2 separate regions of the Homo sapiens genome follow, and region 1 is linked to region 2. Evidence: fine-mapped expression QTL. A gene starts in region 2. The other region holds a variant in brackets. All regions are shown on one strand. Distances are between the middles of the regions. Region 1 overlaps ZNF496-DT (ZNF496 divergent transcript). Region 2 holds the start of ZNF496 (zinc finger protein 496).

Region 1 (5,369 bases), 25 kb before region 2:
TAGATGGAGTTAATTTAATTCGCATTCTTCTTAATAGTTGACCAGCAGAAGTGTCCTGACTTTAAACCCAGCACCTACTGCGTTTCAGGCCTTCAATTTATTAGGCAACCCTACCCCCACCAGGGTCTCCTATTGAGTCAACATACACATTGGGATTAAAAGAATTTGTGAAATCTCTCTGGTTTCAGTGGCCATGTGTATTTTGGGGTATCTTATGGGATGCCAGGGTGAAGGGAATGGCCAATGAGACTAAAGCACAAGTCCTGGTCCCATTGGACAGTAACAGGTTACGTAGGTTCCTTTTCCCATAATACTACCAGACATCAGCCCGGGGTGTATGGAGAGCTGAGTAATTGCCATTGCTCAACTCACCAGTGACGTTTAGGATGTGGGTACAAGTTGAGAGTTCTCCCATAGGCTTATGGAACTCTGCCCCCTGTCTAGAGAGGCAAGAGGAGTAGTTCATGTTCTCTGCAGAGAACGAGGGTATTGCTCTGGGATCTGAGCTCCGCAATGCAGGAAACAGCAATGAAAGACTCTTACAAGTCTTACTTCTCCTTACTTATATCATTGTGCTGGTATGCAGCCAACATGCAACACATTCCTCTAGAATCACTATTCCATCCCAGGGGAAACGGAACCACCTGCGCCTGAGGTGGTCCTGCAGCACACGCGTAGCAGTTACTTTTGCTGAGGGCTTGTACCGAAAATATGACCCATTTGACCCAGGCATTCACATCCCTATACCCTGTCTCAATTTCTAAGGTTTGCCTTAAATCCTTTACCTCAATTATTGTTACCATTTTAGGGTTAATATTTGGTAGACTAAAGTGTTTATTAGGGTCTGGGGTTGGAGTAGTTCCAGGCAAATGGGAGGTTGAGTTCTTGATTAGCCTGAGATCAAATCGACCTGGGGGTCTTTCCTTGTGATGTCTTCTCCTAACCCATATACCTGAGATGCTACTTTTGGTTCTTGGTCTAGAAAGGCTGAATTGTCAAGGGTGATGAGTATAGGATGGCATTCTAAATTCTGGCAGTTATTTGGTGGGGAGCGCTTGGACAGAGGTAGTTTATGCTTCAAGGGTTTCCAGTTTGGAGTTACCCACACCATGTTTACTGTCCAACCCTGAAATTGGGTAGCGCACCATACATCCTCCCAGCTGGGGAAGGGTGATGCCCTACTGCAACCTGCATCTGGTTCAAGGCAAAGAGATTTATCTGCCTGCGAGAGCTGTCTCTGATTTTCTAAATTCCCACAAGGTAAAACCTGACAGGCATCAAATCTTATAGTTTGGGGTGCTACCGTCTTAATCATATTAATCACCAACCTGATTGAGCAGTGGGGAGTCCCCTGCCAGTTTCCATTTTGACCTTCTGCTCTTTGTATACTAACCCATCCCAGCCTTATTACCTTTCAGAAATGCAGCCAGCCCACGCTTTCTTTCTAAATTTTTCTCAGAGTTAACTTTAAGTGTTCGTCAGGTGACCCATGCACTTCCCACTGTTCTTTCTCCTTCCCTTTCCAGGTCTCTTTTACCGGCCTCTTGATTCCAGTGTAGTGAGTCCACCCCCATTCAGCTGTTCGCAGGGCTGTCTCAGGGGCAGAGGCACTTGACAGGGACCTTCCCAGCTTGGGTGGAGCTTGTCTTCTTTCCAAATCTTAGTCAGCACCAAGTTGCCAGGCTGGAAGTAGTGAACCATGAACTCAAGAGGCAGAGCTTGCGTCAGAAGACCTTTTAACCTGAGGGATGACAGGGTGGAAGATATGGCCAGTATATCATTTCTTAAGAATTGGTTTTTGGTTTCCATAGTGGGAGGATCTGTAGCCCTGCCCAAATATGGGAGTCCATATAATAACTTGTAGGGGACAATCCCAAGTCTTTTCTGGGGACTGTCCGAATCCTAATCCTAAAGCCATGGGAGATATTTGGTCCAAGGCACTTTAGTTTCTAAGTTTAGTTTGGTGAGATGCTTTTTGAGAGTTTGGTTTATTCTTTTTACCTTTCCACAGGATGCCAAGGGGTGGGATAATCCCATCAAATTTGTAAACCTTCCATAATTCCCCTTAACACTCTTGAAATAGCTTCCTTTCTAATCTCGTGCGGTTCAAAGAAATCACTTCTCTTTTAACAAAGGGTAGCCTGAAAGTTCAGGCTATAAACTACAGATAAACAACTTAAGCATAGAAGGAGGCGGGGGATGTCTCCTGGGTAAACACCAAACTTCACACTCCCACAGTCGGGCCCAGTATAAACAGTGGGCCTTAATAAGCACATTCCTTTCCCTTTAGGCACATTAAGATAGGGAAGCTAAAGCTGACTGGGATGGGGGGGCGGTGGGAGATGCCTGCAGCTGCAAAAAGATGGCTGGGAATAGACACAGAATCTCTCCCTCCCAGATAAGCAACACAAAGAATTAGAGTATTGGCCAGGCACAGGCTCAAGCGTGTAATCCCAGTACTTTGGGAGGCTGAGGCGGGTGGATTACCTGAGGTCAGGAGTTCCAGACCAGCCTGGCCAATGTGGTGAAAGCCCATCTCTACTAAAACTACAAAAAGAAATTTGCTGGGTGTGGTGGCACGCACCCAGCTACTCAGGAGGCTGAGGCAGAAGAATTGCTTGAACCCGGGAGGTGGAGGGTGCAGTGAGCTGAGATCATGCCATTGCACTCCAGCCTGGATGACAAGAGTGAAACTCCATCTCAAAAAAAAAAGTATTATATGGTGACATGCAGGGTTCTAACAGTCCATTTTTAATTAATCCCTCTATTACTGGTTGGAGATCTTTTCTCCCTTCAACAGAAATGGGATATTGTTTTCTGCAAACTCCTCCT[G/CCTG]GTTGTTTTAGTCCAATCTGTAAGGCTGTGATTCTTAAGTGTCCCCGCTTGCCTTTCCCAAACCACAAAACGGGACTAATTTTTCTTCCCTCCTCCTCTGTTAGGAGGCCCATCCTTACTTTCATTTGTCCTTTCTGTGTATCCCTAATCCTAAACTGAATCTCACAATCAGGTCTCTACCCACTAGGTTAGTTCCTGCTTCAGGAATATATAAGAGTGACCCCTCAATGTGTTCTGGTCCCAGTCTAATTAACATTGTCTTGAATATCAGAACCTGTAATCCCTCCCCTTTTACGCCTAATACTTTCAGTTTTTCCTTAGAGAGTTCTGTACCCTTTGGTTTGTGGATTAGGGAGGAGTGAGCTGCCCCAGTGTCAACCAAAAATGTCACTTCTTCTCCCTAAGGTCCCGCCTTCCAATTTATCAAGGGTTCTTGGTGGGACCTACTCAGAAGGAAGCCCTGACCCCCATTGTATTCATCAACGGTCATGAGGGGGATCATCTCTTCTTCTTTTTTCCATTGAGGACATTCTCTCTTAAGATGCCCTGGCTTTCCACACTTGTAACATCTAGCCACTCATAGTCTTAGGAGGTTTCCCCTGCATTTCCTTTCTTTCTCTGTGTCGAAATCTATCATTCCCTTGTCTCATTTGAGGGGGATCTTGAGCTAATCTTTTTTTGGCTACCTCTTCCACAGTGGAAATCATGATGTTCCCTTTCTGTTTCTGCTTCTCTTCCCCTCTTTTCACAAAGACCTTCTGAGCTTCACTCAGTAATTCCTCAATCGGTTTCTCATTCCATCCATCAATCTTTTGTAATTTTTTTTTTTGTAATGTCAAGCCAGCTTTTAGTAACAAAGTTAATCTGCAACAGGCCTTGCCCTACTGGGTCCTCCGGATCTAATCTGGAGTATTTTCTCATCTCTGAGCCTCTGCAGGAATGTGAAGGGAGTTTTCTCTTTTTCTTGTTGAATCTCAAATGCCTTTGAGACATTTTGTGTCCTAGGAGTGTACTCTTTGATCCCTTGAATTACTAGTTTCCTGAGGTCCTGCATTTGGGCCCAGTCCCTGGGATCATTATTATCCCATTCGGGATCAACATTTGGAAATTTTTGTTTGGCTGGCAAGTCTCACTGCCCAGGAGGGTGTTGCTTCTCCCCACTGGTCATGGCCACTCTCCTAATCATTCCCCTTTCTTCTCCCGTGAACAGGATATTCATGATAGACATCATTTCAGCCCAAGTGTAAAAGCTGGGTCCTAGGAATTGGTCCAGCTGGTCTGCTAAACCCAGGGGATCTTCTAGGAGTGGTTTCATTTCCTTCTTGCAATTCCTAACTTCAGTACTTGCAAGAGGAGTGTTTACAAAGCCAATCTCTCCCTGTCCCATGGGAACTTCCCTAAGAGGGAACATGCTAGATGCCTGCTGTGTGGAAGGGATAGGGAAGTTCTCAATATCCCTCTTACACTCTTGTAATTCTTTTCTTAAATTTGGATAAGGATTTAAAGGAGCAGTTGGCTTGGCTCCCCTGTAGTCTCTGGGTCTTTCTTCCTCTAACCCTCCTGCTGCCCCTTGATCTTCCTGTCCCCTTTTTTGTGAGACGTATGAAGGGGCAAGCACGATAGGGGGTCCCAGGGCTTTTCACTGGGTGAGGGCTCTTCACCAGGCTCTTTTTCTTCTTTTTTGAGGGGGATCATGGGGGCTAATTCCTTGATTCAGCAGAGAGTAACCTATCTCTTCTTGTGAGGATGAAGTTTTATTATTCACAGAGAGAATTAAAGCTTAGAACACAATCCTCATCTGAGCCAAACTTAGGCCAAAAGACAGAAGGCTTATGAATGGGGTCTTTGGGCCAGACAAAACAGCAATACTTTATCATCTTTTCCTTTTCCTTGTCCCTGGTTCGAGGGTTGTTCCACCAAACCTGCAACAATCTCCCCAAAGGACTATCCAGGGGAATGTCAGACGGAGTCTCTTTGGCTCCCTCTTTCCTTTGGCTCCCAGGCCTAGAATTCCTGTTTCCCATTTTCTGCCAGTCTCTGCGTCTGAGTTTTTCCCTGTCTACTCAACCCCCCTTACTGGAGGTTTCTTGCACACCCCGAGACCTCCAAAAATGCCCCATGACCAAGGCAGTACTTACAGTCCAATTTTCCTTCCTTGGCTGGTGCATGAGTTTGCCTGGTTCCCGCAGTGCCTGCTTTTCTCCCTGTGTTGCTTCTGCTGCCTCCTGAATAATAGTCTTGGGTTTGTTTATGCCTTCTATGGGAAGCTGGGATGCCCAGATAGAGCGGGCCACCTAAATCAGGTGGGACACATCTCCCCTCTCGGCCAAAGTCCCACTTCACACAGGCACATGGATCCCAGATGGGCCCCCATGCTTGTGAGAAACACACTCACCTGTCCAAATCCAGAGAATGGACTTAGAGGCCTGAAGAACAGTGAAAAGGAGACATTTAGTAACGGTCTTGCAAGATCAGGTGTCTGGTGGGCAGGCACAACTGGGGCAGTCACAACAGGTAATTTATCTTCTAGCACACAA
Region 2 (5,348 bases):
AGCACACTCTTCCCCACCATGTTGTATTTCTTTCATGACACCGATCACCAATGGCGTTATATTGCAGAATCGCTGATTTATTATTTGATTCCCCTCCCAACTCCTTGGATCATTCTTCTATGGTCTCCCCATGGATCGAATAATCATTGGCACATAGCAAACATTTCATAAAAACAGATACAATTGGCAACATTATATTCATACAAACCTAATACACGCACACACTGGGCATGATGATGGTGCAGTCCTTGAGCAGGGTTTACAGGCAGGATCCTCTTCCCGATGCTTCACCCGTGGTATCTGATACAACCCCACTTCATTCAGAGGCGAACACCTTCCCCACGGGCTCCTGTGCCCCCACCCAGCTCTATGCCATCCCTCTCCTCTCACTCACCAGCCCACCTTGCTTCGCACCGCTCCCCCTTAGGGCCTTTGCTGTCAAGGTGGTCTCCATGTGTCAAACAGGGACTCTGACCAACTACTTCATCTCAAATACCACCTTCACAGTAAGGCCTGCCTGCCCTCCTCTTTAATACCATGACTGTTACCAGCCCCTCCCCAGCACTCCTGACTTCCTGATGCCTCTCCACTTTCCTTTTTTTCTGTAGCACAGATCAAAGAGAGCAGGTCATGTTACTGATTTTGCTTCCTCCAATAGCCAGTTGTGTTCACAGATGTACCTGAGCACCTGGAAGGCTGGCTGCCTAGCACTCATGAGTGTACAGTAGGTACTCGGTATAGGTTTGCTGAATGACTGAATCTTTGATCCTGCACAACCATCCAATGAGGTAGACAGCATCATCCCTGTTTTCTGGATGAGGAAGTTGAGGTACAGAAAGGTTATGTAGGCCTGAGGTCACCTGGCTAGGAATTCATAGGGCAGGATTTAATCCGGGTGCCTGAGTCCAGAACCTTGACTCTGAAGCCCTGTTTTGAGCTAAATGCAGCAGCAGCATAAACAGCCCGTTTTGTGCCTCAAAAGGTGAACAGTGGGAGGCACAGCTGGGCAGGGACGTGTCAGGTCAGGGGAAGAAACTGAATTGGGTAGTGGGGATTAATTGGATGCTGTCTGCCAGCAATTTCTGCCTCCTGCATTTTATCTGCTTTAGGGTTGCAAGGGGCAGAGCTATGAACACGGATGCCCACTCAACAGCCAGTTCCTGGGCCAATCAAAGGGTTGGGAGCTGTAGCACCAGAGCTCTGGAACCCCACAGACTAGGATGTTTGCTAGAGCACCTAAGCCCTACCAGCCTTTGATGACCCCTCGGTTCCTCCCAATTCCTCTCCTCCATGTCACGGTTCCTGGCTGGTGTTCCTGAGAGTGGGCTGTACATGAGTTCTGTAAATGCCAGTCCAGTTACGTCAAAGGGGGTGGCTCTCACTTGTACCTGTAGGCTCCAGCTAAGATCTGCGTGGCCCTGCCCGGCATCTGGCTGTCATCCGGGAAACAATCACTGTTCACAAACAAGGGCTTCACTCCTTCGCTCGCTCCATCTCCTGCTAAAGTCAGAATGTGAACACTGACAAACAGCGGCTCCCAGTAACTCTGCTAGTCAGAAGTGATTATTCCAGCAGTTCAGAGGAGGAAGTGGCGGTGCCCAGGGCCACGGGATTAGAAGAGCAACGGAGCTAAAGGATCCCGTGCCTCAGTCCAACCACCTTGTTCCCACTTACTCAGCCGGGCCACTTTCTTTGGAGAAACTGATTTCCTTCTGCTTGCCCTTGAAAGGGGATCCGAAGGAAATCGGAGCTACCGGCAGTAGCTACCCTCCGGAAGACGGAGAATCTTCTCCACCTTCTCCTCTGCGTAGGAGAATCCAATTTCGGTGCAGAGCAGATGGCGAAGGGGCCATGGGAATCAGACCTGCTCAGGGACCGGGTTCGCACTTTCTCTCAAGCTCTGGAGCCTGAAAAATGAGCATTCCCCGGGGACGACCCATGTAAGAATTTGGGCTATATTCAGCATAGTGCAGCGGCCAGCAGCCCTGTCTCGGGGTGGGGTCCGGAGGCCCCCATTTCTGCTTGCCCCTCACTGCCACATAACCTTGGGTCAGAGTCCCTCATCCTCTCCCTCCGCCACTGTGCACAGCTGCAACCGTGTTCACTTCAGCGAGCAACGAGCCCCGTGACCCCCACTCAGGGTCAGGACTCACCGCAGCCCCTCTGCGCAAGCCCCGAGGCTCTGCGTGGCCTCCGGATGCGCGGCCTTTCCTAACCCGGGGACTCCGCACGTGGGCGCCAGGCCCGGAAGGCGCGGATGTGAGCGCTACCTTCGGCGTCCCGCAGCGGCAGGAGGGGCTGGGCGGCCCGGGCTTCGGCTGGCGGCGGGGGGGGGGTCGCAGGGGAGTCTGAAATGAGGCGGCCGACGGCGCGCGGGGCCTCCTCTCTCCGCTCCATCCCGCACCCCCAATTCCAGCTTCCATCCCCAGCCGCGACTCCCGGTCGGCCGTTCCGGGCGTCCACTGGCCGCGTGTCCTGGGGGCGCCAGAGAAGGAGAACAGCGGAGAAAAGAGCCCCGGGCCGACCTTCCGGACCGGCGGGCCCGCGGGGAAGCCCGGGCGCGGCGACGTGGCTGACCCACAAAGCCCCCGGCCCGGCGGCCAGGCCCAGGCGCGCGCGGAGCGGGGCGGGCCGGGGGTGTCGGATGTCACCCCCAGCGCACACCTCGGCCGGGGGGCGGGGGAGCGAACCACTGAGATGCGGAGACCTCCCCAGTCCTAGAGCGGAGCAGGAAGTGTCCCAGGGGAGGGAGCCGGAGGGCTCCGGCCTTTCCTTTCCTCGGCGTCCGGCGGGCTCCCGCGGCGGCCAGGCCTGCGCCGCCCGCCAACAGGGACGCGCCGCGGCGGTGAGTGCACCCCGGCTCCCGCGGCCGGCCCCGCCCCGCCCTCCTCGGCCCGCGCCCGGCCTCCGCGGCGCCGCCTCCCAGCCCAGAGCCCAGCGCTCAGGAAGGTGCGGGCGGGGGAGAAAGCAACACCATTGTTTTTCAGGCGCCTCCATTTGCCCCCGAGCCGAGCCGTGGCTTTCCGGATGATCGGGAGACGCGGTCTGGACGGGCCGGGAAAGGAGCCGGGCGCCTGCGGAGACCCCGCCTCAGCGAGTACGCCCGGCCGGGCGGGCTGGGAGGATGAGGACGGCTGCCCTGGACTTCCGCCGCCACAGGAGGGTTTTCGGCCGGACGCCGGGAGGGAGCTCCAGGCTGTGAGGTGAGGAGCCCGGAGCCGGCGAGACGGGAGACGCGCGTGTGAGGGAGACCGAGGGCGCGGAGGGCGGGCTCCCCCTTCCCTGGCCCACAGCGACCTTCTCCTTCCCTTTCTGCCGATCCAGCTCGGTCCCTCCTCCGCGAAAGGCTGGGAGCTCGCTCCGCCCCTGCGGGGCCCTCCTCCGCCTCACTCACGTTAGTTCATTCATCAGGCATCTCCTCCGAGCCTCCGACGCGCCAGGTGCCGCCGTGACAAAGACGGACGCGGCCGTCTGGTTGGAGACGATCCGAGTGGCAGCCCGGGTGGGCGCCGGTGCTCGGGGGGGCGGGCCTGAGTAGTCCTGGGCGCTGCAGGTGTGTGATGGGCGCCGCAGGGGGCCGCCGAGCAGGGCGGGCGGGGCCCACCCCGGGCTCCAGATGCCGGAGCCGCCCTGGAAGCGATCCGGTGGTGGGGAGCGCTGTAATGCGTCCAGCCCGACGCCGCCACGGCCCCCATATGGGTTTCTGTGTATGTTGTTACTTTGGAAAGCAAAGAGATTCAGAGCAGTGGGTGTTTCTGGAACCACTCAGTTGTTCCGTAGCTTTTCTGGCATCACTTGTCTTTCTGTGAAATGGGAGTGAGGCCCGAGTCCCCCTTCCCACCTTGTGAGCTGTTGGAGGTTAAGACGCGGCCACGCTGGACAACCTCGTGCAGATGGGGGAGTGGCAGGCACTGCCGGTCCTAAGGATCACAGAGGCCTGATGGCAGAGAAGGGGACTGTGAGTGTCCCCATGTGCCCTTTCACGGGCCCAGCGTTCTAAAGTGGGAATCATAAACACCAGGTATACTGGTTGCTGGTCTCTTGCCACCCTAGTTGTGGCAAAAGTGTCGGCTAGTTGTCTGCACACCAGCGGGGAGGTGTAGGGACCCCTGAGTCCCACCTTGGGGGTGTGGCAGCTGCAGTGTCCAGGGGTTCTTTGAGGGCTGAGCTGTGCAGTGACGGACCCACTTTTCTGTCCTGGCCGAGGAAGGGCTTTGGCGAGTGTGCAGTTGCCTTCAATGTGGTTTGAAGAGGGCAAGGATAGAGAATAGGGTGGAGGCGAGGTTGAAGGTCAGGGCAGAATTGGCAGAAGGCTCATAGGAAACCACTGATACTTCTAGATGCAGTGTTATTTGTCCCTGGTAGACTGCATGTAGCTGTCTCATGTGATGTTTTCCCTTGCCTCCCATTGCAGACTCTGCTGGGCAAAGCTGATTCTGGCTGGGTTGTCCATCCAGCACGCAGCACCATCAGCCCTCTGCCACCAGAAGGGTGGATTTTCCATTCCTGGATGTGCTTGAAGGCTCATCCGATGCATGTCTTTGTCATTCCAGCTCCATTTGTAAAGGTCTTAATAACAAGAACAGTGACTTCGGCTCCGGAGCTTCAAGATAGTGGCCTGCTTGGCCTGCCCATCTCGGATCTCTCCAGGAGGACCCAGCCACCCAAGGTACCAGAGCGTCTTGATTACATCTGCATGTGGCGCTGTTGGTTTCCTGGGATGCTCAAAACAGCAGTGTCACGTTGAAATGCCACCACTTTCTCCCAGATTTCCTGTCTTGTTCATCCAGTCACCCACTTAACGGGAATCCACACGTAATGGTACTGATGGGGGGAGGGCATCTTTCTGTCTGTTTCATCCTGTGTGTAAAGACCAGCCACACCAACACTCCCTACCTTTCCCAGGGCTTCTCCAAAGGGCTGGTCTCTGAGGGCATTGACAGTTTCCTTGTCACTGTCCCCCAGAAATGACCACAGGAGACCAGAACACTGAAGCCAGTGATTTCTGTTTGGAAATAGGGTCGTCTTCTGCTGCTGACCCCCATCAAATCCCATCATGCCCACAGCCCTGTGCCCCCGAGTCTTGGCTCCGAAGGAAAGTGAGGAGCCCAGGAAAATGAGGAGCCCACCTGGAGAGAACCCTAGCCCCCAGGGGGAGCTTCCCAGCCCCGAGTCCTCTCGGCGTCTCTTCCGCCGTTTCCGCTACCAGGAGGCGGCGGGCCCCCGGGAGGCCCTGCAGCGCCTCTGGGACCTGTGCGGGGGCTGGCTGCGGCCTGAGAGGCACACCAAGGAGCAGATTCTGGAGCTGCTGGTGCTGGAGCAGTTCCTGGCCATCCTGCCCCGGGAGA

What was found. PIP is the estimated chance that this variant, and not a neighbour inherited with it, causes the effect. A credible set is the group of variants that fine-mapping cannot tell apart.
Region 1: its variant is the best candidate, but not a certain one, in a credible set for the expression of ZNF496 in neutrophils (BLUEPRINT, PIP 0.59).

What each region holds. Positions count from the first base shown.
Region 1 is chr1:247,354,146-247,359,514 of GRCh38, reverse strand. The region is part of intron 1 of ZNF496-DT (ZNF496 divergent transcript); the gene reads right to left. Among named protein-coding and RNA genes, the nearest start is that of ZNF496-DT, 25 kb to the right of the region's middle. RefSeq lists an enhancer at 1,486-1,785. The variant G/CCTG (reference allele first, on the strand shown) is at 2,833.
Region 2 is chr1:247,329,287-247,334,634 of GRCh38, reverse strand. ZNF496 (zinc finger protein 496) reads left to right here and starts at 2,768. Exons shown (of 10, transcript NM_032752.3): 1 at 2,768-2,845; 2 at 2,988-3,203; 3 at 4,554-4,669; 4 at 5,020-5,348. The coding sequence starts at 5,057. ZNF496-DT (ZNF496 divergent transcript) reads right to left here and starts at 2,581. Exons shown (of 3, transcript NR_168399.1): 1 at 1,389-2,581. RefSeq lists silencers at 794-1,088, 2,201-2,680, 2,811-2,920, 3,491-3,730 and enhancers at 2,594-2,888, 5,275-5,348.